2 separate regions of the Homo sapiens genome follow, and region 1 is linked to region 2. Evidence: fine-mapped expression QTL. A gene starts in region 2. The other region holds a variant in brackets. All regions are shown on one strand. Distances are between the middles of the regions.

The links.
Region 1: its variant is fine-mapped to the expression of LY6D in tibial nerve (GTEx, PIP 0.99).

Annotation. Positions count from the first base shown.
Region 1 is chr8:142,810,567-142,825,410 of GRCh38, forward strand. No RefSeq gene overlaps it. Among named protein-coding and RNA genes, the nearest start is that of GML, 17 kb to the right of the region's middle. RefSeq lists enhancers at 4,339-5,538, 4,746-5,582. The variant G/A (reference allele first, on the strand shown) is at 7,925.
Region 2 is chr8:142,779,882-142,794,725 of GRCh38, forward strand. It overlaps LY6D (lymphocyte antigen 6 family member D), which reads right to left and starts at 6,658. Exons shown (of 3, transcript NM_003695.3): 1 at 6,584-6,658; 2 at 5,708-5,806; 3 at 5,001-5,575. The coding sequence starts at 6,635. The coding sequence ends at 5,340. RefSeq lists a silencer at 2,769-2,818.

The DNA of each region.
Region 1 (14,844 bases), 31 kb after region 2:
CCTCTCTCCACCCCCCCCTCTTTTCCTCCCTCTTTCTTTCCCTCCACCCCTCCCTTTTTCCCTCCTTCCATCCTTCCCTTTCTCTCAGCCTTGCCTCTCTCTAGCCAGTGCAGGGGGCAGGGGCTGGAGGGGCATTAGACCCAGGCCCCAGAATTGCAGTGGGCACATGCCAGCCACACTGAGTCTCTAGAGATTTTCAGGACCTTGTTCTCTTCATGCCCAGTTCGGTAGCTGGAAACCTGCATTCACCTCATAGCAGCCTCTAGCCAATGGGCGGAGGGCATCCCTGTCCTGTCCTCTAGCCAATGGCGGAGGGCATCCCTGTCCTGTCCTCTAGCCAACAGGCGGAGGGCATCCCTGTCCTGTCCTCTAACCAATGGGCGGAGGGCATCCCTGTCCTGGCCTCACAGTGAGGAAGCGCTTCATAGATCACAGCTCAAGGCCCACTCGGGCCACTCCTCCTCCACCTGATGCCTGCAGAGCCCCACAACACCTCCTTGAGGCTGCCCAGGGCCCCTTACGCCCTCTGGGGCCCCCCAGTCACTGGCCCAGAGTGGGTGAGGCCCAAGTGGTGCCCTAGTGGCATGAGCTTGTCCGAGTAGAGGAGGATCCTGGGAGTGTAGCCAGTGCCACCTCCCTGCCCAATTCACACAGGGAAAACTGAGTCCGGGTGCAGGTGGAGGAGTCAGGATTTCAACTAAGGCCCCTAAGCCGGCAGCAAGCGCAGGAAAGGAGCTGTGCTGGGGACTCAGATGCTGGCGTGGGGCTCCCGTGCCCATGTGCCCCATGAGGGCCCCTGTGCCAGGGGAATGTGGGGTCACTCGGGAGTTCACGGCCTGGGCTCGAACCAGAGAGAGGACGCAAGGAATCCCAGTTCCTTCCGCAGGGAGAGATGGGGCCACCTTGAAAGGTATCTACACCCACCAGCCCCAGTTCAGGTCTCAGCCCCACTCATGCCCATGCTGTGGGGTGTTGGGCCAGCCCCTCAATCTCTCCAAGCCTGCAATTGGTTGTCTGAAGAAAAAGAGTGACAGCAATGCTGACCAGCACAGAAGGCTGCTCTGGGGTGGGCTTAGCGGTGGATGGGGAGGCCCAAAACCCAGCCAGCAACCAGCAGTGCCCACCCAGCACCCGTATCTTGACTCCTGACATCCTTCTTCACTCACAGGAATGAGCACTACTTGGAGAAAGGGCTGATTCTAGGGATGGAATGCGGGAACACAAGATGAGCCTGAAGTAGTTTTTTTTTGTTTTTTTTTTGAGACGGAGTCATGCTCTGTCACCCAGGCTGGAGTGCAGTGGCGTGATCTCAGCTCACTACAAGCTCTGCCTCCCGGGTTCACGCCATTCTCCTGCCTCAGCCTCCCGAGTAGCTGGGACTACAGGCGCCTGCCACCACGCCCAGATAATTTTTTGTATTTTTAGTAGAGATGGGGTTTCACCGTGTTAGCCAGGATGGTCTCGATCTCCTGACCTCGTGATCCACCTGCCTCGGCCTCCCAAATTGCTGGGATTACAGGCGCGAGCCACTGCGCCCAGCCAAAGTACCTTTAAAAACAAAACAAAACCAAAACCAAACTTCTTTATTGAGATATAATTCATTTCATGAAACTCACCCATTTAAAGTGAACAGTTCAGTGGTTTCAGTACTGCATAGTTGCAGGGTTGTGCAACCATCACCACAATCTAATTTTGGGATGTTTTTACTCCGAAAAGAAACCTGTGCCCATCAGCCGTCAGTGCCAGCTTCCCTGCTCCCAGCCCCTGGCAACCCCTGCTTCACTTTGCCTCCGTGTGAATTTGTCTGTTCTGCACTTGTCATGCAAAGGGGATCATATACTATGTGGCCTCTGTGTCTGGCTTCTGTCCCTGAGCACCAAGTTCTCAAGGCTCACTGCCTTGTTGCCTATGTCAGTGCTTGATTCCACGGAATGTACTCCATGTGGATAGAGCACATTTGTCTATCGGTTCATCAGTTGAAGGACATTTGGGTTGTGGAAGACCATGTGGGGCCAGAAAAGAAGAAAATCCTAAAAAAAAGACCCAAAATGATGCGGACTGTGAAAGGAATAGATCAGGCAGCTGAAAACCCTTCCAATGGCCAGAGCTGGAACAATTTGAGCAGCAAAATAAATAACAGTATTGGATTATACTCCTGTGCATAAAATAAATGTTTACAAGTCCATAATGATATCAATAAATGATTGAAGAAAGAAGGATATTGGAAAGAAAAGACCAATCTTCTGCATAAGAATTCCAAATAATTTACATAGATACTTTGCTTGAAAAGGTGGAGCTTAAATTGCCACTCCTCAGATGTGGCTGCACTTAGTGACTTCCTTCCAACCATGACAGCATGGAAATAGGGTGGGGGAATGTATGAGTGTGTTTTCACGCTGCTTAGAAGGCATACCAGAGACTGGGCAATTTACAAAAGAAAGAAGTTTAATGGACTTACAGTTCCACGTGGCTGGGAAGGGCTCATAATCATGGCAGAAGGCAAGGAGGAGCAAGTCATGTCTTACAGGGATGGCAGCAGGCAAAGAGAAAGACCTTGCGCAGGGAAACTCCCATTTTTAAAACCACCAGATTTCATGAGACTTATTCACTATCATGAGAGCAGCATGGGAAAGACCTGCCCCCATGATTCAATCACCTCCCTCCAGGCACCTCCCACAACATGTGGGAATTCAAGATGTGATTTGGGTGGGGACACAGTGAAACCGTATCGGGGAAAAAACAGGCTTCTCCTGGTAGGAGAGAAGCCTGGCAGATACAACACCATGGAAGTGGTCAAGGTCAGCATCAACAGTGGTGAATCCCAGTGTCAGTGCCTACTGTTGATGTGGTGACAGAAACAGTGATTCACTTCTGCTTCAGTCTTCTCAAAACGACCATCCCAGTCTAACCACCAGGAAAACACCAGGCAAATTGAGAGACACGCCACAAAATATTCAACCAGTACCTCTGAAAACTGTCGAGGTCACGAAAAACAAGGCAAGTCTGAGAAACTGTCACCGCCCAGAGGAGCCTCTGTAAACATGAGTATGTACCACACAGGCTCTTGGAGGGTAATAGATGAGAAAAAGACATTAGGGGAGAATGAAGCCAATCTGAATCAAGTGTGGATTCAGCTCATAATAATGGGTCAATATTGGTTCATTAATTGTGACAAATGGACCACAGGAATATAAGATGTTGAAATAGGGATTTCGGCTGGGTGAGGTGGCTCACGCCCATTATCCCAGCACTTTGGGTGGCTGAGGTGGGAAGATTACTTGAGCCCAGGAGTTTGAGACAAGCCTGGGCAACATAGTGAGATCCCATCTCTACAAAAAAATGGCAAATTAGCCAGGCATGGGGGTGCATGCCTGTAGTCCCAACCACTTGGCAAGCTGAGGCGGGAGGATCACTTGAGCCCAGGAGGTTGAGGCTGCAGTGAGCTGTGATTGCACCACTGCACTCCAGCCTGGGCAACAGAGTGAGACCTTGTCGAAGAAGAAGAAAAAGAAGGAGAAGGAGAAGATAGCAATAAGGATATCTGGGTGTGGGGAATATAGGAACTGTCTGTACTATCTTTGGCAACTTTTCTGTAAATCTAAAACAATTATAAAAGTAATAAGCTTCTATAAAAAATGTGGCAATGCCTATAGAAGTGAGGGGCTCGATGGTGGGGTTTGTGTGGCTGGCAGAGCTCTTCAGGGCAATCGCCACACTTCCTAGGCCACATGCTTAGAGCAGCTGTTCTCCTGGTCCCCAGAAGACCACATCTTGGGTCTTGTTTGCCATGCAGGCAGTAACATTCTGTCTTTGGTAACCTGAAGAAGACCTGCGAATAGCTTGTCTCAGGAGATAAAATGCCAAGATAATGAAGCTAAGGCCACAGGTCACGCCCTTCAATCATCATTGCACAGTAGACGTTCTCACAGGCATGGCTTGCACCTAGACCCTGGTCACACCCTGAGCCCTGACCCTAGACACACACTTAGGTCTGACCCTGGCTACACACTGAGCCCTGATCGTGCTTCCACTCTGTTTTGACTCTGGACATACATTGAGCCCTGATCCTGGATATATATTGAGCCCCGATCCTGGTCACACACTGAGCCCTGATCTGACACTGAGCCTGGATTCTGATCACATACTGAGACCCATTCCCACACTTTGGGTCATGCTGTCACACTATATATGACTCTGGACACACATTGATCTCTGACTGTGGTCACAGGCTGAGTCCTGAATGTGACCCCACACTGTGACCTGACTCTGGACATAAATTAATGCTGATCTTGCTGTAAAAATTAAGTAATTCGAAATCAAAGCTGTTGGAACTTTAAATTATTTTGAGACTTAAAGGAGTGTGACTATAAGACCTGAATCATGTAAACAGGCAGCTGTAACCTTTGTTCTTCTCATTATAGATTAGCCTCTTCTTTACCTGCATCATTGTGCAGTATGTTGTAAAAGACAACAGGGTGCCAAAGAAGACCACTTTCCCTCTTCACTGTTGATCTCTTTATACACTGACTTCCCTTTTACTTCTCCCAGACAAAGACTTCACGACTATCACGTTGTCTAAGATGGAATGTTAAATATACTTTTAAACTGGAAAAGGAAAACAAGTTGTAATCAAATTGCTGTATCTCATAAACTGGCCTTGTACGAAAAAAAAAACATAAGCCTGTTAAATGTCTTTGTTTTATCTGTCTAGAAAAGCAAGACCTTAACTTTCCAGCTTCGGAGCACTGACCTCATTCTTCTAGGGTCTGTGTTACCTGGATGGTCATTCTTAGCTTTGCACTTGAATAAATTTAGACTGGATTCTGATCCTTTCTATTATTTCGGGTTGCCATGGCTCACATTCTCAGCCCTGGCCCTGGTCATAGTGATTGGAAGATGTATTAAGATCTAGGAACAGAGTTTGGGGGAAGCAAAGGAATGCCAGTTTGCTCAGAGACACAGAGCACTTCACAAAGGGATCAGAGAGCAGCTGGGGGCTCAGGCTGATGGGGCTCTTAAAGGGGCATGAGCCGGGAGGCACCGGGAAAAAGCTGGGCATTGCAAGGTGCCCCAGCACCTGCTCTTGGCCATCCTGCTTCTTTCCCTCTTTCCTTCCCACCCAGAACCTTGCCCTGCAACCCCTTTCTCCCTGCTGCCTCTGGCCTCCTGGAGCAGGGAGTACACCAGCTTTTGGAAACCCATTTTGAAGGATCCCAGCCTCTGGGCTCCAGGCTCACTGAGTGTGGCACACAGCTGCACCATGAATGCTTGCCCAGGCATGTCCAGGCTGGTCCCTCCCTGAGCTGTGCTGGCTCCTTTGGGAGCAGAGACTGGGGCGGGGAGGTGGAGGACACAGATGATTCACTCTGGGTTCCCAGGCAGGCTGGGTGCACATGTTTCCAGCTGATCTGGTCAGCCAGGAGCCAGGATGCAAGGATGCCTGTGTTCCTGAGCGTGGGGTGTGGCTGGTATTTTCCAGGAGCAAGGAGGTGGCAAACTGGATAAACAAGGGTGTCTAGGCTTCTGTCTCAGCTCCCAGCAGGCTGCAGGGCTCACCCGGGACAGCTCAGTTTGCCTTCCCTGCAGACTGGGGCTGAGCCATGCCTTGCTCCTGCAGGGCCTACAGCTGGGGGCACTGGAGGTGGCCCGGGAAGGGTCATTAGGAGCTCACCAGCCAGGCAACACCCGCAAGGGCTTCCATCTCCGAACACACTGTCTTGAAGTTCTCTGCCCGCGAAGTGGGGTGGAAATTCAGCACCCCCCCGAGCAGAGCCTGGCCGTGAGATAGATGACTTGCCCTGTTTAAAGCGGTGCCCAGGGACAGCCTCCACGTCACCATCACTCAGGCTCCCTCTTGCAGCCCCTGCTGGCAAAGTGGAAATGTGGCTTGCAGAGTTGCATCTGAAGCCAAGCAGAGGGTGGGAACGGAGCCAAACTCATAACTGAACCACCAGCACCCCCGCTGGGCAGCCCCGGCAGTGCACCCTCGGGGTCCTTCAGCGGAGAGGAGCTGGCCCCACCTGCCAGCCCCATGGTGCTCCCAGCCAGTGATGAGGCATGGCGGGGGCTGCTCCTCTGTGGCCTCCTATTAGGGCAGCTTTGGCTGGGATGTCTCTGAGGCCAGCCGACATCTCAAAATGGCCCCGCCATCCAGGAGGCCCCCTCCTTCCGCAACTGTCAGAGCTATGCGGAGTCCCACAGCTCTCGCCTCCCACTCCTGTTCCCTCTCATCCTTCACAGGCTTTTCTGGCAAAATGTTCTTGCACATAGAGTCCTGCCTTGGCATCTGGTGTGAACAACAGAATCCAGTACACCCAAAGCCCCTCTACAAGACAGCCCCCATCTGCTCTGCAGACGCCCCCGGCCTCAGCCCTGCACCTCTTCCTGTCTCACACACATATACGATACACACACACTCACACACACACAAAATACACTCACACACACAAAATCACTCACATACACAAGACACACAGACGTGTACTCACACACAAGCACAGGGACACACGTACACACATACCCACACATGTACACACGCACACATTCACACAAAATACACACAGACACACATTCACACACATAGACGTTACTTACACAAGCACATGCACACATGTACACACACTCCCACACATGCACACTCACACACAGACATGCACTCACAAGCATATGCATACATGTGCACACATATGCACACTTACTGATGTGCACTCACACACAATACACAGACACACACACGCACTCACACACAACACACACACAGACTGCACTCACATGCACATTCACACACATTCACAATACAGACATACACATGCACACAGGTACATTCCCGCACACGCACACTCACACAGTGCATTCATACAGTACACTCACACTCGGACAAGCACTCACACAAGCATATTCATACGTACATCTACTCACACACGTACACACACAAGCACACTCACATCAGTGACACACACTGGCTCACATGTGCACTCACACATAACACATCCTCTTTCACACATGCACTGACATTCACTCTCAAACATTTGCACACACACACATTTACATTTACTCACACACACATTTACATTTACTCACATACAGTCACATTCACACTCACATTTGCATGTGAACACACCTGTAAGCACACATACACTTGTGCACACACCTGCACACTGTTTGGACTGCACTCACACACCAACCCCAGAGTGCACCAGGCTTGGTCCAGCCCCCCGGCGCTTCCCCCGCGACTGACCGAGGCTGGTGTAGGAGGGAGGGAGGAAGCTGTCCTGCCTCCGGAGGGGAGATGAGGGCCATTCCAGAGCTTAGCTGCTCCGCTGCCTCTCATCAAGAGCAGGGCCAGGGAGGCCCAGCGGCTTCGGGGAGTCAGATTCGGTGGACCAGGCAGGAGGAGGGTAGGACCTGTGGCTCCCCTGCCACGACCACACTGTGTGCTGAGGTGCCTGGCTCTGGGCTCTGGCAGACCAGGTTTTGCAGTGTGGGCTGCATGGCCATCTCCTTCCTCTCCTTAACATTCTTTTTCCATGAAGTGGGAATCATGATCCCTCCAGCCCTAAGTTGTCCCCAGAATTAAAGGGGCATGTGTGTGTCTGGCAGAGTCCTGGGACCAAGGAAAACCCCAGAGAAACAGGGGGACGGTGCTGTGAAAAGGAAGTGTTGGCTGTGAGGGCCTGATCCAAGTCACCTAGGAAGATGGGGGCAAGAGGGACCCGGGCCCAGGGAGCCGCGGAGCCGGGGAGGATGGGGCGGAGGAGGTCTGTGGCTGGCCGGCTTGCACCAGGCCTCCTCTGCTGCCTGCCCACTGCTCCCCAATGCTGGGCAGGACCTCGAGTTTCCTCACCTGCAGGATGGGACCACCCCACCGGCCTCTGCTCGCCTCTCCTTCTCCTTCCCAAACTGCGCAGCTCTCAGCACCCTCTTC[G/A]TACCACTCCCAGCACCCAGCAAACACATCTAAAACAGTGTAGCACAGCTCACAGGCCCTGGCACGCTGTGGGGGCTGTGACGGGGCCCAGCAGACCACGGGGACGACGAACATCATCAGAGAGTAACCTGCAACCTGGCCATGCTGGGTCCTCCTGGGGACCTGACTAGCAGGAGGCACCCTTGAGGTCTCGGTGGTTCTGGGGCCCACAGGCTTCAGATCTGGCCCATCTCCCATCTTCCACTCTTCTCCACGGCTCACTTTGCCTGAAAAATAGGCTAATGCTGCCTGCTCTACTGGCCAGCTGGGGAGGCTCTGTTGGTGAAATGAGAGCCCATAGGCTGGAAAGTGTTTGAAACATTTGAAGGCCCAAGTCTGGAGGGCAGGTCCCAAGGTCCACTCAGATCCTGAGTTCATTGGCTCAGCCTTGGGGCGGGGCTCTCGCTCCCGGAAGGGGATCTGCCTGGTGAAGCCCAGGGCAGTGGATTCAAGTCTAAGTCCGCCCCTGTGGATGTGGGGCCTGAGCGAATCACTCAGCCCTCTCAGAGGCCCTCATGAGGCTCCCAATTTCTGGCCTGCCAGGGCATGACCTCCCTGGAGACCCTCACTCCAGACGCCTAGAAGTCAGTGACCCTGCAGCAAGAGGGAGAGGAGCCCACAGCCAGGGCTGCTCTGATGGACGCCACAGGGCCGTGCCGACCCATGGCCCAGACTCCTTTTAGCAAAGGCCTCCTCTAGAAGTGTTTGCCAAGTGCTGGGGGTGGTAAGAAGGGGGTGCCAAGAGCTGCGCAGTTTGGGAGCGAGAAGGGGTGGGAGAACTGAGAGGGGCTGGGTCCCAAGGGGCAGTTGTACTGAGGAGGAGGCTGCCGACAGCGCTGGGCCCCCAAGCCTCTGCTGGGCTTCTGGGAAGCAAACGGCTAAGTGTCCTGTTCCCTGTAGCCCAGCTAAGAAAGACCCTTGAGGGAAGCAGGCAGCCACAGAGGCTGCACAGTCTTGGGAACCGTGGCACAGCCCAGGGTGGGCCAGGACAGTCCCCGTGCCCCTCACAGGCCTGGGGAGGGTAAGGCAGAGCCCATCAGGCTGTCCCCAGAGACCCCAGCTGCCTCCTGGGCCAGGAGACAGGAGTCGTACAGGTTGGCTAGGGGAAGCCCTGGGGGAGATGGGCAGGAGGAGGACGTGGCTAAGAGCTGGGGTGGGTGTTGCGGCCTCTCCAGGAGTATTCTGGAGAGAATTTCCTAAACGGAACAGGCTCTGTGAGGCCACCCACACTTGCTGCCTGCTGGCGACCCCTGGAGTGGCATCCCCCCTCACACTTCTGTGGGACCCTCAGACACAGCCGTCGCCATTGCTGAATGACCGTCGCTGGCCACACGGGCAGCTGGACCATGGCCACAACTCACCGAAGGGCCAGAGGCACGACTCACCGAAGGGGTAGAGGTGGGATGCTGCCCACTGGTGGGAGGAGAGTACAGAGATGGACTCTACCCAGTTGCGACAAATTCAGGAGTTTCCCGAAGGGACTGCGACCTCTGTAGGCAAGGCCAAAACATCTAGGGGAGGCCGGGCGCACACCCCCTGGACCAAGGGTGTGACCCAGGGCTGGCGAGTGGGTACCTGGGTGGGTCTGCCAGGTGGAGAGCCGGCCCTGTCTGCCAAGGGCCCTGAGGGCAGGATGTGGTCTGCCGGACAGCACGTCTGCTCACAGAGGGACCACCTCAGGAGGGCTTTCTTCTGAGCAGTTGTGCTTCCTGTCCTGAGCACCTTGGGGAAACTGAGGCAGGAGGTAGTGTGGAGCGGTGAGTATCTTGGCAGGGGTGCCTCTTCACCAGCTCACGCCGCAAAGCCTGCCTACCCCAGCCTCCAGCCCTCATGGGCCTTGGAACCCCTCCGGGCATTTCCACAGCCCACCCCCAGGAAAGCCTGGCTCACAGGTAACCAGAGCACACTCCTATCACAGTGAGTCCCACAGCACCCATGCCTGGATGCTGGCCAAGCTCAGGCGCCTGCCACTGCCACTGGCTGTGCCCTGCCTGCAGGTCTCCCTCATTCTACCCTCTCCTCAGATTCTCTCCTCTGCCTCCTCCAGGAAGCCTCCCGTGACTCCACCCAGAGCCCTCTTGTCCCTGAATTCCTGGGGTTCTTTTGGCTTTGGGGATAAGTGGGTGTGGAGCTGTCGTGTCCCTAGGTGCAAGCTGGACCGGTGCCCAGCCTCCCCGATGGCCTTCTTAGGGCCCACCCTGCAAACCTCTGCTTTATCTTCCAGATACAACCTCACCCATGAAGGGAAGGCCACGCCTGCATCCCTTAGGGTCAGAAGCCAAGACGCCCTGCAGGCTCTGCACCTGACTCTGGAGCCTAAGATCCCTAGAAGCAGGGCAGTGCTGCCTCCCTACAGCTTAGTCCTGCCCATGGTGGGTCCTTGGTTCAGCCATTCATTCATTCCCTCCCCTCCCCCCTGCCCCATGTCATAGACAGGCTGGCTGGGCCCTATGCCGGGGCTGGGCCAAATCCTGTATGTGCAGAAGGACCCCGTGAGAGCCTGCCCACAGCAAGGTCGGTCAGAAGGGATGGCTGAGACACAAGGGGCAGGGTTTACAGCCCAGGTGGGGGCAGCAGCGTAGGGTGCAGGAGCCCAGAGGGAGGGTGCAGGGCCATCCAGCAAGGCCAGCCTGCAGAAGGCCGTTCCTGCCCAGTCCAGGTGCAGAGCCTTACTAGGACCTGGGAGAGCAAAGGGACAGGCAAGGTCATACCTGCGGGGGTGTGGAGCTCCTCTGCTGGGCCTAGATGTTGAGTTCATACCCCTTTGCCAGGTTGGGAGAGGGCATCGGCTGGGGACAAAGCGGGTCAAGCAGGTATGAGATTACCCTTGGATCTCTTCCTCCTGCAGCTTGGAGGATGCCAGCAGGGGCCGGCGTTGAGGAGGCCCTCGGGTGGCATCACCAGCATGGCTCTGAGGGTCTCTATTTCCAGAGCTCTGCATCTGTGAGCTCAGGCTCCCCACCCAGTCAGCGAGGGAGAAGGCAGGCCGCTCCTCAGTGGACACATGCCAGTGGCCTCAGGTCCCATTGCTCCACCTCTCGCAGTGGAAGGCCACCCCCAATGTGCTGAGTCCACTCAGCAGAAGGGAAGCGCTTTCCCTGAGCTTGCAGGACTCAGCCCAGAGCCCGGTGCTTAGAGGGCTCTGTGAGCCTTTGGGCCCAGGGGGCCTGTAGACGCCTCTGGAGGCTGGAATGTCTGTGGAAAGCACCACCTTGCTGATTCTGCCGCAGAGGCTGGGCTGGCATGTGGGCTGGGGCTTGTCCTAACACTGGGACCCTGGCAGGTCTCTGGGGTTGCAGGCAGGAAGCAGGTAAGGCTTCCACACTACAGCCTGTATGAGGTTGTGTAAGGTAAAGCATTCATGTATTCATTTGCTCGGCAAGTATTCATTTACTTCCTACATGCTGGACACTGTGCTGGGTATTTGCCACAGTGGCCTTGACTGGCATCCACAGGGCCAGCAGCTTAAGGGCACACAGCCTGGGGGCCATGGGGGTGGTAAGAATGTGGGCCTGAGATGGTGGGAAATGGCTCCTGCACGGAAAACATGCTTCCCGTAGTCCCAGGCAGCTTAGAAGACCTACTGATGAGCATCGAAACAGAATCCTGCTCCTAAGCCTGGCTGTGCTCTCCCAGTGTGAGGTCTTTGGTTGCCGTCCATGTCATCGTCCTCCTCCTTACCACAGGGGCCCTGGGCAGCCAACCTTGGCAATACTCATGCAGATCTAATGAAACCATGCCCACAGACACCATCTGTGCCCCTGCCTGGCTACCTCATGCCTGTGCCTGGTTGGAGGCTGCACATCTTTGGCTGGGGTTTGCTCTTGGCCTGGATTCCATTTTCTCCCAGCAAGGTAGGTGTGTAGAGGGGGTGTTTTTCTAGCACTGATGCAGTGGCTGGCATGTTTCTTCATACATGGCATGTGGCATTAGCAATTTAAATCTCCACCTCTGGGTGTGATTTTTAGCATTAAAATGAGGAAGGGGTAACTCCAGGTTGAAATTTAGGTCTAACTACACATGTGGGGCTTCAGGGAAGTCCCTAGCCCCCTGCTTCAGGGGGCTGATTGGCTGAAAGTTAGGTGAGCTAGAGCTTGAGTAAGGGGCTTTGTTTTTCTCCCCTAGGCCAGATCACCACAGGAAGCCAGCCAGCCTGCTTCATTCCCCCTGAGAGATTTCATCTTCATTTTAAGGGGTTTTGGGCAAAGGTCTCTTCTTCTGGAGCTACTTCCTGCTGAGGCGAGTGTCATTCCTATATCCTTTACCTTTACCTGAGAGGAATGGAACTCCTTTCAGCTTAAGGGGACAATCTGCTAGGGCTGAGGGCTTCTGGAACACACTGGAAGCACTGCACGGTCAGTAACATTGTTGCAATCTAGAAGACAAAAGTTTTCCCAGGAAGTTAAACAAGCATGGTCCAAAAATCAAAAGAAGGATAGCCGCTGATGGTCCTAAGGAAGGAAGAAACCAACTTGTAGAGAGAGAGGTGATGAGGCAGCATTCGGAACTGACTCCTCTGCTGGGCTCCCTTTACCAGAGAGTGTGGCCACATTGTCTGATTGTAGATTGCTTGGATGTTCACCTCTGCTTGCCCTGTAGTATTTATCTAAGCATGGCAGGAGGTGTTGGTGACTATGCATACACCTCCTTGTTCTGCCGTTAGGTAATCAAGGGCCAATGGTTACCCAACACCACGTTATCGAGAGAACTGAGGGAGGGCTTCACACCTTCTAGAGCCTGCCCAGTCTGATCCACTACATGACCAATCTGCCATGTCAGGCCTCCCCAAGGGGCTGGTAGACCAATAGTCAGGCCTATTCCCACTGGCACCATGCCAAGGCCTTACCTTGCTCAGACAGTGGCCTGATGTTGGGAGGTGCAGTTGTGGTTACTCCGTTTATCCCCATCGATCCCAAGGCACATTCACCTGTGAATCACACATTGGCTCTGCAGGAATAGGCCTGAGCCAACAGAGGAAAAGTATAAGGAAAGCAGGCAGTGGACCACAGGAGGTTATTAGGGTGGCCTCGAGGGAAAACAATTCCAAGAGGAGCCCAAATTCGAATGTCCCTGGTGTCATTGAGAATGGAGAGGTTCAGGTTATGAATTGTGCAGCTGGGGGTATCAAGCCAGGGTCCTGATGATGGTCTGCATATCCCCTGGTGTCATTGAGAATGGAGAGTTCAGGTTATGAAATGTGCAGTTGGGGGTATCAAGCCAGGGTCCTGAAGATAGTCTGCATATCCCCTGGTATATATCATTTATATAAGGATGTTACTTAACTATTGCTGTCTTCCAGAGGCAGCTTCTTGAACAAATACTTGAGGTCCTCTATAGGTTTATGGGAGTAGACTGTTTTCTCCAAGCAGGCCTGTCGTCCATCAGGAGAAGCAAAAGGTTTTATTCTAGAGACAAGTCCTTCCAACTGTACAGCTGATGGAGTGGCCAAGGAAACCTGGTATGGACCCTTTCATTTCTCAGTGAACTGAGCCTCTGGGCTTCCTTTTCGCCATGTCTTGAGTAGGACCTGTGCACCTGGGCTAGCAGGGAAATGATCTGAAACTCCATGACCCGGCTGAGGTCACATCTTATTATCATATTGGAAGATGGCCTGCTGAACTTGTCCCAAGTTAATGATGTATTTTACAGCCTGATTTAACTCTTCGTCTAGAAGAAAGTGGCTAGGAAGAGGCTAGCAATAAGAGGAGTGGGTTGGGATCCTGTTGGCATCCTATGTCACGCTTAGACAACGATGCTCGCCTAGAAACTCAGGTTAGAGGCTCGGCCCACAAGGTTAGATGCCCTGGGGTATATCTGGAACAATGGAATCTCTTTGCAAGATGTTTGTCAGTGTGTGATCTGAACTAATCCACCTTGTGCCCTCTGCTGGGGATGGGAAAGCTCTACTTCTCATCATTTCCCAGCTCATTGCTTTGCTGTACAGCAGCCTTGGGGCAGCCCCGAATGGCTGGTCCAGAGGTTTCCACCTTCCAGTGGTGGATTCTAATGTTCTTTATGTGTTTCTCTCTGTTCTTCTCTGCCTGCTTTGGATCGGCTGTTACTAAGCTGCTGCCGAGTGGCAACTCTGCTTATCTCACGGTGTTGAGGTGAGACTCACTGCTTTTGGTATTACTGATTCAAGGCTACTTAGAGATTGTCTTTTCTTGTACAGTTCAGCCAGTTCTGGCTAAAATGTATACATTAAAAACTCATTTAAAACTGAAGAAAAAAGTGATGAAAAGGTTTTTTTTTTTTTCTTAAAACCAAACTTCCTTAAAGACTACTTTACCAAAACTTTGGTCCACAGCTTTCCTTGGATTGCTTGTATGTCTGGGTCAATTAAGAAAAGTTTATGCTCTGGGAAACATGTTTCTAGAATTGCGGGTCTTATCTATAAAGTGCTAACATCTGGCAAACAGTGTAGGATCTCTTGCTTCCTCGGTTTTCAGACTCACAGATGAATGAGTGCCCTTAGCTGTCCCTTCCCATCCCTTCCCATCCCTTCCCGCTCCGGTTTCCTGTATGCAATGTGCTCAGCCTTCCGAGCCCTGGGAGAAGCAGGGATTCTCATGCTTCTTTATGTTCCCCTAGGGACTAGGGGTTAGCAGTCCTCACCCCAATGTGTGAGGTCCTTTGGGCTCTATCTGCTGGGGAGCCTGGAGCCAGGGATCCTCCAGGTCAGCCACTACCCGGTTGCATGGGGCTTTTCGGCCTTTAGGGGCCCAGGGTTGCAGTGACACCCCAATGGAGAGCCTGTTTGAGTCTCAGAGGGATATTTGCCAGCACATACTGCTAGGTCCCTCTTGTCCCCTTTGTCAGCTGTGTATTTGCTGTCTGTGCCTCATTAGTGACATCTGTCATCCTGAGCTTGCATGCTCTGA
Region 2 (14,844 bases):
AGTATATGCTGTCAGTGGGAAACTCACCAGACATGTAAAAACACAAATAAGATAAAAGTAAAAAGATGGAGAGAGATATACTATGCTAACACCAATTAAAAGAACACAGACATGACTACGTCAATATCAAAGTAGGTTTAAAGCAAAGACTATAATCAGAAATAAAGAGGAGCATTACTGGCCAGGTGTAGTGGCTCTCATCTGCAATCCCAGCACTTTGGGAGGCTGAGGTGGGAGGATTGCTTGAGGCCAGGAGTTTGAGACCAGCCAGGGCAAAACAGCAAAACACTATCTGTACTAGAAAGAAAGAAAAAAAATTTAAAAAGAGGGACATTACCAAATGATAAATTGATCAGTTCATGAAGAGGACTCAGCAGTTCTAAATATGTATGCACCTAACAATTAAGCTTCAAAATACACAAAGCAAAACAAACAACATCTGATAGAACTGAAAGGAGAAAAAGAAAATCCACAATAACAGAGATTTCAACACTCCTCTTTCGAGAACTGATAAAAAATAGACAAAAAGTCTGTAAGGATGAAGACGTGGATCACATTACCAGTCAACATGACCAACTTGATGTTTGTAGGACACTCCACCTCACAGAAGGGGAACACACCTTTATTTACCAATAATGTCCTCCAAGGCAGACTGTATTCTGGGCCATAGAACAAATCTCAGTAAATTTATACGGATTAAAATCATGCAGATTATTTGCTTGGACTACAATGGAGCTAAATTAGAAATCAATAACAGAAATATATCTAAAAGATCATCAAATATTTAGAAACTGAGTAATAACATATTTCTAAACAACTTATAGGTCAAAGGAGAAACCAAAAAGGAAATCAGAAAATATTTCCAACTGAATGAAAATGCAAACACAATTCATCAAAGTCAAAGGATGCAGCTGAAGTGGGCCCTGGAGGGAAATTTTGCACTAATGCTTCTTTTAGAAAAAAAAGAGCTAAAACTTCTTTTGGAAGAGAAAGAAGTTCTCCAAAAAAAACCACCTAAACTTTCACCCTCGGAAACCAGAACAAAAAGAGCAAATCAAACCCAAGGTAAGCAAAATGAAGAAAATAGCAAAAATAAAAGCAAAAAAAAAAAAAAAAAAAAGTGAGGTAGAAAAAGAAGATAGAGAAAAATCAATGAGAGCAATGTTTGAGAATGCCCCTCCAGGAGGAGGACCTCAACAACCCTCCCCAGTCCGGCTTGTCCATGGCAGGACCAGAGAAAGGACCTCTTGCAAACCAAAGCTAGCTGCCTCTGAGTTGGGGGCTGGCCAGTGGAGTGGGCGGCTGGGGCTGCCCCTCCAGCCCTCCGTGGGATCTGGCTGTCGAGACTGGGCGTTAAGGGAGGCTCTTGGGCCCCCCTGATCTGACTGAATAATGCTCCTTTCTTTCTCCCACCTGGCCTTTCAGCCAAGATGCTGTCAGGCGTCATCAGCCCCACACAGGGCCTGCAACCTTGTAGGTGGGGACAGCGCAGCTGGCCAGAGGGGGCCGGGTGGGAGCTCAGGCCCGACTGGACGGTGAGGAGAGCAGAAGTTCCGAGCAGGTGGAGGGAGGATCCCTTTTCAGAGGACCTGGTCAGTTGCTTTTGCACAGTCTCCCTGACAGCTGCCCTCTGTCTGGACATTGTGCTTTGACTGCTTTTAGCATTTCCATTTTTAAGGCATAGAGAAAATTGCATCCGGTGATGGGCCAGGAGAGTCAGCCATGCACCCCATGACAGGGACAGTGCCCCACCCCTGGGTGCTGGCCAAACCTCAGTGGCTGTGCCTTGGGGCCCCACCACTCAATCCTATGCCTAAGCATCTCCCTGCAAGTTCTGAGCTTGGGCTCTGGCAGAGGGAGCTCCTCCTTCAGGGGCACTCAGGACATGGGGGCAGGGCTGTCGGCCCCCTCTGGCCAGCTGCGCTGTCCACACCTACAAGGTTGCAGGCCCTGTGTGGGACTGAAGATGCCTGACAGAGTCTTGGCTGGGGCTGGGGCTGGGGTCAGGTTGTGTCCAGGACAGTTGAGGAGCTGTCCAGCAGGGTCACAGAGAAGCAGCCTGGAGGCTGGGAGACTGAGCTAGGGACCCCTGGAGGCACAGGGCAGAGGGCAGTGATGGGCTATGAGCTGTGACTGTCCTTGGGCTTGGTCTGGAGTCCTGCCAGCTCCCAGGCCCCATTGCAGCCACATGGGCAGCCTAGCCCTCTCTGGATCCTGCAGGTTCGCTCCCACTCCTGGGCCTTTGCCCAGGGCCCGCACGCAGCCTCATCCATGCTGCCTTCGTTGTCCCTGTACCTGCTGCTGCTTTGCAGTCTTCCCTGACCCACCAGCAGAACTCCCTCTTCCTTCATTCCTGGAGTTTGGTGGCCACAGCCCCCGTTTCCTGCCTTTCAGGGGTGGGAGTGGTAGGGGAGGTGGCATTCCCGCCTGCCTCCAGGCTGCACTGGACACAGAGCACTCCCGTTCCCTGGGCCCTGGATGAGGATTCCTGCAGCCAGCCTGCCGTGAAGTGGCAGGAGTCACTTTCCCTTGCCCAGCCTTAGTTTCCCCATACGGAAGTGGGGATGGGTGGGCCTGCGGCCTAGGCACTCCTACCCCTCTGCTCTCTGCCCGACTCCCATGCCCAGGTGCCTTCGCACACCCTGCCCTGGGCGCTTGGCAGGCCTCAGGCCACCTGTCCAGAGTGGAGTGGAAAAGGGCACAGATGGGGCCATGAGCGGCACTGGCCTGGGCGAAGGCGGATTTTCCCTGTGCAGGAGCCCCGGCACCCGGCTCTCCGGTGGCCACCAGAGGGCGCTCATACTCAGACCTCCAGGAGCACTCGCAGGCCCCTCCCACATGCCAGCACTCAGGGGAGAAGGGGCGCCCTCACCCCTTCACCCTGGGTCATGTCCCTGAGACTGGGGTTCAAGAGCCTCCAGAGAGGCCGGCTTGGAACACCCCAGGCCCAACCCCAGCCTCGGAGCCATGTGGACACTGACTACCCACAGCCACCACCCAGGGCAAGTCCAGCTGCCTGGGCCCATCCCCATCCATGGGAACCCAGCAGCCCCTTGGCCAGACCTCACCAGGGTGAAGCTGGACTGGAGGGGGCGGGGAGCATGACGCAGGGAATATGGGCCAGGTGAGGTCGCCCAGAGGCAGGGAGGGTTCCGCACCCACTGCGTGGGTTCTGGTATTTCGGGGATGAGGCTGTGACGTGGAGTGAGATGAGGCCCCCGGCAGATGCCCCAGCAAGGGGCCCTTCCCCTTCTGGAGAGGGCCAGAGGCTCCTGCAGGCTGACCCCACGCCCCCGGCATGGGAAGTCTCAGGCCTCACCTGGGTCAGAGCAGAGCTCTGCCTTCCCCCAGGGCAGCTCCCTCACAGGTCTGGCCTGGAAAACTTATGGTGACCGAGCCCCCTCCGGCCCCGGCCAGCAGACAGTGGTGTAGCATGGGTGGCAGCTGGTGAGGGGTCAGTGGTGCTCCCTGGCCCTGGGTCCAGGCACTCAGCTCTTTGTCCCACGCACCATGAGACCAGCAGCATTACCACCCCCAGTTCCAGCCAAGGGCAGGAGCACTAGGTGGGGTCTGAGGCCCCAGGAGCGCACGGAAATGCCTGCAGCCCTGCAGTGGCTGGGAGGGGGGCTGAGGGCCAGGGCCACCATTTAGTCACAGGCAGCATGTGGGGTGCTGGCTGCACCAGGTGGGTGCCCAGTGGAGGAAAATGGAGGCTCCCGGAGGTGGAGTGCTTTGCCTAAGGTCTCTCAGTCAGGGCAAGGAGTGACCCACCTTGGCCGCCCTGGGGAGATGGGCCTTGGGTGTGGAGAAGGGTGATCCCAAGGTGGAGACAGTGAAGCTCACCCAGACCCAGTCCTGGGTCGCGGTGCCTTGGCTGGGCAGGCAGCCCTCCAGGAGGGGGTTGCACAGTGGCCCTGGGTCCCAGGGGAGGCAGGATGGACAGGTGGTAAGAGCAGGCCTTCCCAAATCACGCTTCACCTCCAGTAACCATCCAGCACCCCACTCGCCCCCAGCCCCTCAGCTGGAACTGGGGGTGGTGATGGTGCTGGTCTCATGGTGTGTGGGACAAAGAGCTGAATGCCTGGACCCAGGGCCAGGGAGCACCACTGACCCCTCACCAGCTGCCACCCACGCTACGCCACCGTCTGCTGGCCGCGGCCGGAGGGGGCTCTGCCACCACGGAATTTCCAGGCCAGGCCTGCGAGGGAGCTGGCCTGGGGGAAGGCAGAGCTCTGCTCTGACCCTGGTGAGGCCTGAGACTTCCCATGCCGGGGACATGTGGTCAGCCTGCAGGAGCCTCTGGCCCTCTCCAGAAGTGGAAGGGCCCCTTGCTGGGGCATCTGCCGGGGGCCTCATCTCACTGCACGTCCCAACCTCATCCCCGAAATACCAGAACCCACGCAGTGGGTGCGGAACCCTCCCTGCCTCTGGGCGACCTCATCTGGCCCATATTCCCTGCGTCATACTCCCCGCCCAGTCTAGCTTCACCCTGGTGAGGTCTGGCCAAGGGGCTGCTGGGTTCCCATAGATAGGGTCCATGGGACTTTCCTGGATGGTGGCTGAACTTTCCCTGGGCAGCTGGACTTGCCTTGGCGATGGCTGTAGGTAGTCAGTGCCTACTTGGCTCCAAAGCTGGGGTTGGGCCTGGGGTGTCCCAAGCCGGCCTCTCTGGAGGCTCCTGAACCCCGGTCTCAGAGACATGACCCGGGGTGAAAGGCTGAGGGGTTCCTTCTCCCCTAGGTGCTATGTGTGGGAGGGGCCTGCGAGCCCTCTTACCCTGTGCTCCTACTCAGGCCTCACCCCAGGAGTGCCCTCCACCTCTGGGGCGGTGGGAGGCATCTGAGCAGCCTGCCCCTTCCAGGGTGGGGACGGACGGTGCCACCTCAGGCATCACCCCACGACTGGCCCCAGGGGACATGTGCTGGAGGCTCAGGGTACCTATGTGGCCTGATATCCGCCCCTCAGCTCCTCCGTCCCAGAATAGCACAGCCACAGCCACACTGGTTTAAATCATTTATCTCCATGTAGAGATTTGAGTACAAAAATAAACGGCAACAAAACAGAAGGAGTGTGAAATCCGGGGATCCACAGGGCTTCTGTCCTCCACCTTCCATGCAGCTGGGGGCTGCATCCTCTGTGGGGTGGCTTCATCCTCTGTGGGGTCTGTGGGGCCTGCTCCAAGTCATCAGCATTCCATGCCCACCTGGACCTGGTCCCAGACTTTCGGGGAAGCCCTCAGCCTGGGGCTCCTGGCACCCCCGTTGCGGCTGGGGAAGAGAGGTGTGGAATCCCCAGAGAAAGGGAAGGAAAGGCATGAGGGGCCTTCCCTGGGGGGAAGGTCACAGGCTGGGGGCTAAGATGACGGCCAGGAGGCTCAGGGCCAGCCCCAGGCTGAGGGCACTGTGGGCGAGGGCGGTGCGGGTGGGTGCAGCGTTGTGCAGCTTCTCATTGCACAGGTCCTCCTGGCAGCACTGGGTGGAGCTGGTGCCGCTGCTGACCTGGCCTTGCAGGGTGTAGCTGGGTGTGCACGACTCCGCACAGTCCTTCTTCACCAGATTCCCCCTCAGAGGCTCCACTGGGCACAGGTGAGTGTGGTCAGGCCAGGCAGCCACCTCTGCCCCCCACCTCCCCACAACCTTCCAGCCAACACCCACAACAGCCAGGGATGTCCCCCAGCCCCAGGGACACCTGGACAGATGCTACCCACCTGTGTTCGTGGTCTTGCAGAAGCGAGAGCTGGCCGGGCAGACCACAGAATGCTTGCAGTTGCTGGAGCTGGTGCACACGTGGCAGCGCAGGGTAAGGGCTGGCGGGGAGGGAGTCCGGCTCAGCGGGCCCAACAGAGGCCTCCTGGTGACTCAGCAGGGCCTGCTCCCCCACCTGCAGAGACCCCTCCTGGACAGAGGCCCTGCTGCCCTTGCCCTAGGCCCCCAAACCCGGGCTCTGGGTCCTGGCAGGGCATGTGCCCTGAGTGCAGCCTCAGGGGACATGTATTCCAGCCTGGGCCGGCTTGGAAGAGGTGTCCTGCCCTGCCCCTGTCTAGGGTGTGTTGCAAGCCTTTCCTCCAAGGTCTCAGGGAGCTCTGCGACTGCCAAGAGGACACTGGCTCTTGTCCCCACCCCAGGGGATGTCCCTGGAGGAGATGGCTATGTTTCTGAGGGCCTGACGGAGCTAAGGCCCCGGGGGCAGCCAGCTTGGCTGCTCTGAGCCTATGACAGGAAGGGCTTGGTGGCCTTTGGGCTGTCCTGGGCTGTGCTGGGGGAGACCTGGGGACCGGGAGGGGCTGGTGGCAGGGACTAGATGGCCGCTCTCCCAGTGAGAAGCATCTCAAGACAACCCCCTGCTCCACTCTCTCAGGGTCCGTGACTCCAGGAGTCAGTTCTAAGATCCTCAGATTCTGAAACATTGTAAATCTGACACTCGTTAAGATTCGGGCTCCATGTTGTTTTAAATTTGAAGAGTCTAGCACCCACAGTGTCGGGGTTCTCTGTGCCTAGATGTCGTCAGCTCCAGGCTCCTAGTATTTGGTGACCACACAGGCCACAGCCGCCCACCCGCCCGTCCCCTTGGCCCAGCCCCTCACCTGGCCCTGTAGCCACAGCCAGGGCTGCAAGGAGCAGCAATGCTGTCCTCATCTCTGATGTCGTCTGGGAGCAGTGCGGGCCCCTGCATTGCCAAGGCCTTATAGGCACGGGCTGGGCGGGGGTGGGCAGTCCGCCAGCCAGCGGCATTCTGCAGGGCTCTGTGCAAGCGTCAGCCCAGGACGGGCACCTGCCCCACCCTGCCTGGCCCACGCCCACCAGCCTGGCTGTCGCTGGGCGCTGCCCCTGCTGCCCCCCGCCAGGCAGAGGTCTGCCCTCCGCAACGGGGCCCAGTGGCCTCCTGGCCCTGCTGTTCCTGCTGCTGTGCCTCCATCTCTCCCACTTTCACTTCTCTGTCTCTGTGGGTCTTGTTCTCTCGCTGCCGTCCGTTCCTGGGTCACTTTGTCTCTGACCTGCCACCCGCTACCCCCCGCCCCCCACCCCCCACCATCCATCACCATCCTGTGTCTTTGTCCCTGCATTCCCCCCATAGTTCCCTCAATAGAGTTGCAGCCTGTGCCCGGTGCCCTGTGGGTGCCCGTGGGTGTCCAGGGCAGGGGAGGTAGGAAGGGCAGGTGCTGGTCCTACTCTCCTGGCTCTGGGCTCAGGGTTGCTGCCGGGGATGCAGAAGGTCCTTGAGCTGCAAGGGCTCGGGGTGGCTGTGGGCTGATGGGGTGTGTGAGGCAGAGGCAGAGGCAGAGGCCACTCCGAGGCAGGGAGGGCAGCTGGGGCAGCAGTGAGGTGAGCACTGGACAGAGTGAGGACTGTGAGGACCCGGCCCTCGAAGTTGCCTGGGGAGCCCTGTGGGCAGAAGGCCCGGGCTGTGGAGGCAGCAACTCCACCCTGCGTTGTGCAGGGAGAGACTGAGCCCTCCTGGTCTCCACCAGCCCTGCCTCCCGCCCTCCAGGGCCCCAGAAGCCCTCCCCGTGGGATTCCTTCCCCCACTCTCCAGGCCCCTCCTGCTACGTTGGGGGCAGCGCCATCCCGGCCACTTTGTAACTATTGCTCTAGGTGTCCCGGCTCCAGTCTCCCCAAAATCGTGAACTCTTTGGGGCTGGGCCCCAGCACCCAGGGCCTCAAAGCAGGTTCTTGGTCTGCTGCCCGTTGAGTGGAGGCCAGTCCCCGCCTTCACCCTCTTTATACTCACAGGAGGGACTTTCTTTCCCTGGAGACGGGGTCTCTGAGCACCCACCGCCTCGCGCAGGAGCCCACCTCTTGGGGCCCCCATCCACCTGCTCAGCCCAGCACGCTCTGCCGCTCGCCTGTGCTGGGCAGCACCCACCTGAGTGGTGTGGAGGGGCCCACAGACTTGCTTTGCCCCTGCCCTGGCTAGGCTGAAGGTGAGTGGGAGCCGGGGCACAGATGGAGGTCAGCCCTGGGCCCAGCCTCCTGCCGCCGCTGCCACGTGGCTGATGAACAGACAACAACAGGCCCAGGGCAGGGCAGGGCCGGTTCCGAGGAGGGTGGTCCTGGGCTGGGCTGAGGCTTTTGGGAGCACCGTGGGTACTGGGGCCAGTCAGGCCTGGGCTTGAGACAGACCCTCTGGCCCTTCCTCCCGGCATCTCTCCCTTGCTGAGCCCCACGTCTCAGATGCCGGGGATCCCAGCAAATGTCTCCTGAGAATGCTCCTGGCCGGGCTCTCCCTGACACAGTGCCGGGGCCTGGAGGATCCACCTACAGGAGGGGTTGCCTGGTGGTGCCTTTAGAAACCAGGGTGCAGGCGGGAGCCCCCTGGGGCAGCCCCACATTTGCATCTGGTGCCTGGCCCTGGCTGGAGCTTGGTGGGGACGTGTGTAGTCTCACTTGCCAAGGCAGGTGACCCAAAGGTCCATGCCCCCACCCAGAGAGAGGAGGTTTCCTCCAGCTCCAAGGCCCTGTGTCCATGGGTCACAGTGAGAGGCATGGGCAGCTTGGGGGAAGGTGCTTCCAGGGGCCTTGGGAGGCAGAGCTCAGGGCTTGGTGGCGGGGTGATGACTCGGTGGGCATGGCAGGTGGGGAGGGTGACTCACTGTGGCCAGGGGCATGAGAGCTGCTGGAAAAACAGGTTTGGAATTCCTGCTGGGTCTGGTGGAGCTGGAGGGTCCGGGATGTCAGGTGGCCTGAGAGTGGGTTCTGAGTGTGGGGCCATGGGGGAGTGTGCTCCCCACACCTGGGGCTGGAGGAGGGCCCTGCACACCTGGCTCACCCCCGTGGGACACCTCAGGCATCACTGTGGCTGCGTCCCTGCCAGGCATGGGAGCCGGAGCGGGGTTCCAGTTTTGTGGGATGAGGGCCTCTGACCTGGCAGGGCTGCCCACGAGGATGAGCTGCCCATCCCAGGTGGTCCTAGCAAAAGCATGAACAGCAGCCCTACACAGTTCACTTTCAGGAGAAAGCGGGTGCTTCTGATGCCAGGAGCCCTTGGACAGCTGAGCTTCTGGGGACAGTGCAGTCAGGGAGGGTTTCTTGTAGGCAGTGACCTGACTAGAGCCTCAGAGCCAGGGATTGGAATGTGGAGAGGAGACACTGTGGCCCCTCATGTCAGTCCCTGCCCAGTGCTTGTTCACTGGTGAGGAAGTGAGGGCCAGAGAGCTCCAGGCACGTTCTGGGGCAGAACCTGGTGGGGTCTCAAGCACTTCTCACTATCACCGCCAGCCTTTCCCCCCTCCTCCCTCCTCTGTTCTCTAGGGCCTGGGCCCTCCCCCACTCCACCCCTCCCACTCAGCCCCTGGAGCTGGGGCCCTGGGCCTGGTTGGTACCATCAGGGTATTGGCAGCAGAAATGACACCTGGGAGAGGCGACGAAGGGGCCTGGGGCAGGGAAAACCACCGCCCCACCCCGTTAGCCTTGCCCCCTGCTCCCTGAACCAGGAAACCCGGCACGGGGACAAGCCCAGGCTTCTGTCTGGAGCCGAAGTTCCTTGCTCATGCCCCTTCCCCCACCTTCTGCCCCCTCTACCTTATGCTGGGCCCCTAGGAACACACAAGGGTGTGGTGGCTCAGAGAGGGAAGCGCCTGGCTTAGGGCGGCACAGCACCGTACTCCAGGCTTGCACCAGCCCAGCCCTGGGCCCTGTCCTGGCTGAATGGGTGCCTGGTGGACAAGGCGGGGCCCCGGGCTGGAGAAGCTGGCTGAGTGGGTGCCCGGTGGACAAGGCGGGGCCCTGGGCTGGAGGAGCTGGCTGAGTGGGTGCCTGGTGGACAAGTCAGGGCCCTGGCCTGGAGGAGCTGACTGAGTGGGTGCCCGGTGGACAAGGCGGGGCCGCGGGCTGGAGGAGCTGCCTGGGCTGGAGGAGCTGCCTGGGCTGGAGGAGCTGGGAAGCCCCAGGGCACAAGGAAGGGCTTCTTCACCCTCAGGCTGTTACCTGGGCAAGCCAGAATCCCAGCCACACCCCAGGGGTTCCAAAATGCATCCGTCTGCCTTGAGGCACTCCATTCATTCATTCATTCACTCACTCATTCATTCATTCATTCTTCAACATTTTATAAGGACCAACCATATGCAAGGCACTTTGGATATAATGGAAACCAGGAGAGAAGAGAGACAGGGCCCAGGTCCCAGGGCCTGCAGACCAGTAGGGAGTGGGAACAGACAATTGCTGCCTCTGTGGGACCCACAGCAGGGGTGTGATGATGTGGAGGGTGAGGATCTGGGGCTGAGAAGCCAAGGGAGGACCAACCTTGTTGGAGCTGTCTAAGCAGGGAAGGGTGTGTGGCCATTACCTGGTAAGCAGGTGGGTGTCGGGCAAGGGCATTGGGGCCCAGGTGCCAGGCCGCTTTTCTGTCTCTTTCCCCCGCAGGGGCAGGTGGCTGCCCCAAGCTGAGCGGCTGAGTGTGTGGTGTCTTTCTAGAGGCTGCCCTGATCCTCTCAGCCCCCTCACCTGCACAGATGGGGCCTCAGATGGACAGCAAGGGCCCGGCCTTGCCCGGCATCACCCAGCAAGCGGGAGCCACAGCTGGGCTGGGCCTCTGGGCCTGGGCTCTTCCCTCACACCTGGCCTCCCCACTCCTCTTTCTAGTGCCGGAGTCACCTTTACACATAGCACCACAATCTCAGGCAAAGTCTCTTTCACCTGCTTCCCAGGGCCAAGCCTGGCCCTGCCCTAGTCTTAGGTCACCCCCTGGGACCCTGGCTACCAGCCACCCCTCCCAGGGTACACCTAGTGTCCATGGGCCGGGCCGGGCCGGGCCAGGGGCCGGGGATGGAGGCCAGCTCTGCCCCTCCACACAGGCCCCTCATCCTTGCCAGGTCTCTCTTTCCTGCACTGCCAGGGGGGCAATCTAGGGAGCAGTTTCGTGGATGGAGAAACCCTTCTACCTTGGGGCACAGCTTGTTCCCAGCAAAGGCTGGACTGGGGCTCTAGGTTCCTAAGGCCCAAGAGAAACAAACCTGTTCCCAGGCCTGGCTGGTGGTGCCCACAGGCGGGGCTGGCACCTTCCCTGGGAGAGGCACCATTTCAGCACCTAGGACCGGCATGGTCCCTGCGAAGCGCTGGCATTCAGGGGGCTAGTCAAGGGTGCCCAGTGCCAAAGTCTGGGCGATGAGGGAGAATCCCTCAGGGTGTGAACTGTGTCCAGCCTGTGGTAGGGGGAGAGAGGTTGCAGCAGAGTGCAGCCCTGGAGCCACGGAACCATAGCGCAAACAACTGTGGGGACCTCAGAGTCCCAAGACTGCAGGCTGTTAGCATGGGCTTGCAGAACACAGAACCCTAGAATTGCAAGACCTAAGGAACCTGGATGAGAATCAGGTGCCCTGGACGGGGGTTATTTTCACACATTAGGACATGCTCCCACCAGCATTCTAGGGAATGTCAGAGGGTTTGTGTTAATGCTGAACTCCTGGGTTCTCCCCTCTGCTAGGCCACAGCTCAGTCTACTTCCTGTTGTGGCCTGGAACTTGTGGCTGCCAACCCTTAGCTCCATGAGGTAGGTTCAAGGCTGGTGAGCACAGGGCCCACCTCACTTTCCTCCCCCACTCCCCTGCCTTCATTTGCTCCCAATACATACCTGCTCATCCATCCTCTATCCTCCATCCATCCATGCATCCATCCATCTACCATCTGCCCACTCATTCTCCACTCATCCACCCACCCATCTATCCATCCACTCATCTGTCTATTCTCCATCCATCTATTCATCCCTCATCCAGCAATCAATCTACCATCTGTCTACCCATCCATTCATTCACTTATCCATCCATCGACTCATCCATCCATTCTCCATCCACTCATCATCCATCCTCCATCCATCCAGTCATCCATCAATCAATCTACCATTTGTCCACCCATCCATCCATCCATCCACTCATCTGCCCACCTTCCATCCATCCAGCCTTCATCCATCCATCCTCCATCCATCCATCCTCCATCTTCCATCCATCCAGCCTCCATCCATCCATCTTCTCATCCATTCATCTTCCATTCACTGATCATCCATCCTCCATCCATCCACCCACTCACCCATCTGTCCTCCATCCATTCATCATCCATCCATCCATCTATCTACTCATCCATCCATTCTCCATCCACTCATCATCCATCCTCCATCCATCCAGTCATCCATCAATCAATCTACCATTTGACATATACACCATGGAATACTATGCAGCCATAAAAAATGATGAGTTCCTGTCCTTTGCAGGGACATGGATGAAGCTGGAAACATCATTCTCAGCAAACTATCGCAAGGACAAAAAACCAAACACCACATATTCTCACTCATAGGTGGGAATGGAACAATGAGAACACATGGACACAGGAAGGGGAACATCACACACCGGGGACTATTGTGGGGTGGGGAGAGGGGGGAGGGATAGCATTAGGAGATATACCTAATGCTAAATGACAAGTTAATGGGTGCAGCACACCAACATGGCACATGTATACGTATGTAACAAACCTGCACGTTGTGCACATGTACCCTAAAACTTAAAGTATAATAATAATAAAAAAATCTACCATTTGTCCACCCATCCATCCATCCACTCATCTACCCATCCGTCATCCATCCATCCATCCACTCATCCGTTCACCTTCCATCCATCCATCCTCCTTCCATCTACACTTCATCCATCCGTTCTCCATCTTCCATCCATCCATCTACTCATCTATCCATCTTCCATTCACCCATCATCCATCCTCCATCCATCCACCCACTCACCCATCTGTCCTCCATCCATTCATCATTCATCCATCCATCTACTCATCCATCCATCATCCATCCAGCCATCATTCATCCTCCACTGATCCATTCACTCATCCATTCATTCTCCATCCATCCATCCTGTATCCATCCTCCATTCATCCATTCACCCACTCATCCATCCATGCTCCATCCATCCATCCTCCATTCAGCGATCCATTCATTCAACCTCCATCCATCCTGCCTCCTCTGGGCAAGTGAGTCAGACATTTTGACCACCTTGGGAGACATGGGATGAATTTAGTGCTGATGGCGCAGTGTGACCTTTCCCTTAGTCGTAAGGAAAATCCCCAAGATATTGAGTGCATCCTTCCAGAGGGTCTCCTGATAGGTGGGCTGTTTCACTCCTGCTCTCCTGTCCTCAGGACAGGCATTCTTCTTCTTACTCTGCCTGTGGTCCTCCCTTGCCCTGTAGGAGTTCCTGTCCCACCAAAGGACTCCCCACCATGAGTCAGTGCAGACCAGCTCCCTCACGGGAAGTCCTAGCAAGACCTCGGACCAGCCTTCCGCGCTTCTCAGGCAAGGGTTACTTGGTGGTCTGCAGTGGCTTTGTCCCTCCAGGGCCTGTCCCCAACTCAGTGTTCCCACCAGTGGGCACTGCCCTTATACCACTTATGTGTCCTCTAGGAGTTAGTTAGAATGATGTCTCTCTGTCTCTCTCCCCGCTCTTCCTTTTCTATTCACCCACACCTGCCCCTGACAAAACAGTAATTCTCAAAGGCCAAGGAGTCCATCCTGGCAAGGGTTCCGAGACCCTTGGGTCTGCAGCAGGTCATAGCAGCTTTGGGGCTGGCAACACCCAGACCATAGACACATGCTTTTTAAAGGTTACAGGATAACTTGGGGGGACATCATGGATCCTAGCCCTTAGGAATGAAAGAACTATCTTCCATGCACTGCATGCCCTGTCTTCAGTCTGTTGCTGGCACCAGCACCTCCACAGGGCCATGTGAGTTGTCACCACATGACTTGGGTGGAGGAGGCTTGTCTTTGCTCCTCCTGGGATCAGGTGACTGCTGAGCTTTGAGGCTGGAGCGTCCCAGCATGGCTGCTCCCTGCTCAGCTTGGATGTTGGGTCCTGGGCAGGGCCTGGGGTGGGCTGTCCCTGCAGGAGGTGTGCGTGTTGCTGCAGTCCTCACTGGGTACCGGGCCAGGCCAGGCTTCCAGGGGAGGGAAGAGAGGCCCATGCTGGGCCCTGCCAGGGAACTCACCAGGACCCCAGGGGCTTAAGGGATCAAGAGGGTGTTACATAAGAAGGGAATCGGGTGGGTCCTTGGGGAGCAGGAGATGCCGAATGGAAGGAGCATGGAGGCCCAGGAGCCCCTGAGCCCATGCAGCTGTGCCCGGGACAGAGGAGCAACTCTGACGGGCAGCCCAGGTCACAAGGAGCCAGGTCGGCACTGAAGGGACCTGAGAAAGCCCCACCCACCTTCATTTCAGAGCTGGCACTGCTGACAGCAGGGTCTAACCACAATGCTGGCTCTGGGTTCCACTGTCCCGCACATCTCAGCCTGAGCCCTGCTGAGCCTGGTGGCCTCTCCTCCCTGGACCCAGACCTCCCTCGGGCATTTCAGGGGTAACTCATTCCAACCCATTCAGCCCCACCTCTCCCCCAAACTGCTCCTCCTCAAACCCGCAGAGGCCATGCAAGGGCCCCCAGAGGCCTACATCTCCACCCTCCCTCTGCCTCTCCCTTGGCCCCAGTCTGGCCCTGCCTCCTCCTGGCTGGGGGCTGTGCCTGCCTCTGCCTGCACCGCCCCGCCCTGCAGTCCTCACTCCTTACCCTGCACTTGGGTTGGATGCAGTCCCTCCCCTGGACCCCCTCAGTGCTCTCCCACACTCTCAGCCTCCCTGTCCTGCCTCTGGGCCCTGACTGGGCGGTCTGTGTGCTCTGTCCATCTCGGGGGGCTGGGTACCCCCTTCTGTCTCGGTGCCCGGGTCTCCTCTCAGGCCATCAAGCCCTGTCCTACCTCCGGGCCTTTGCACATTGACCTCATTGTCAGAGACACTGGTGCCTTCCAGAGGGCCCCAGCCACGGCCCCCGAGGCCTGTCCCTCCTACCCTCCTGCCTCCCTCACACCTTGG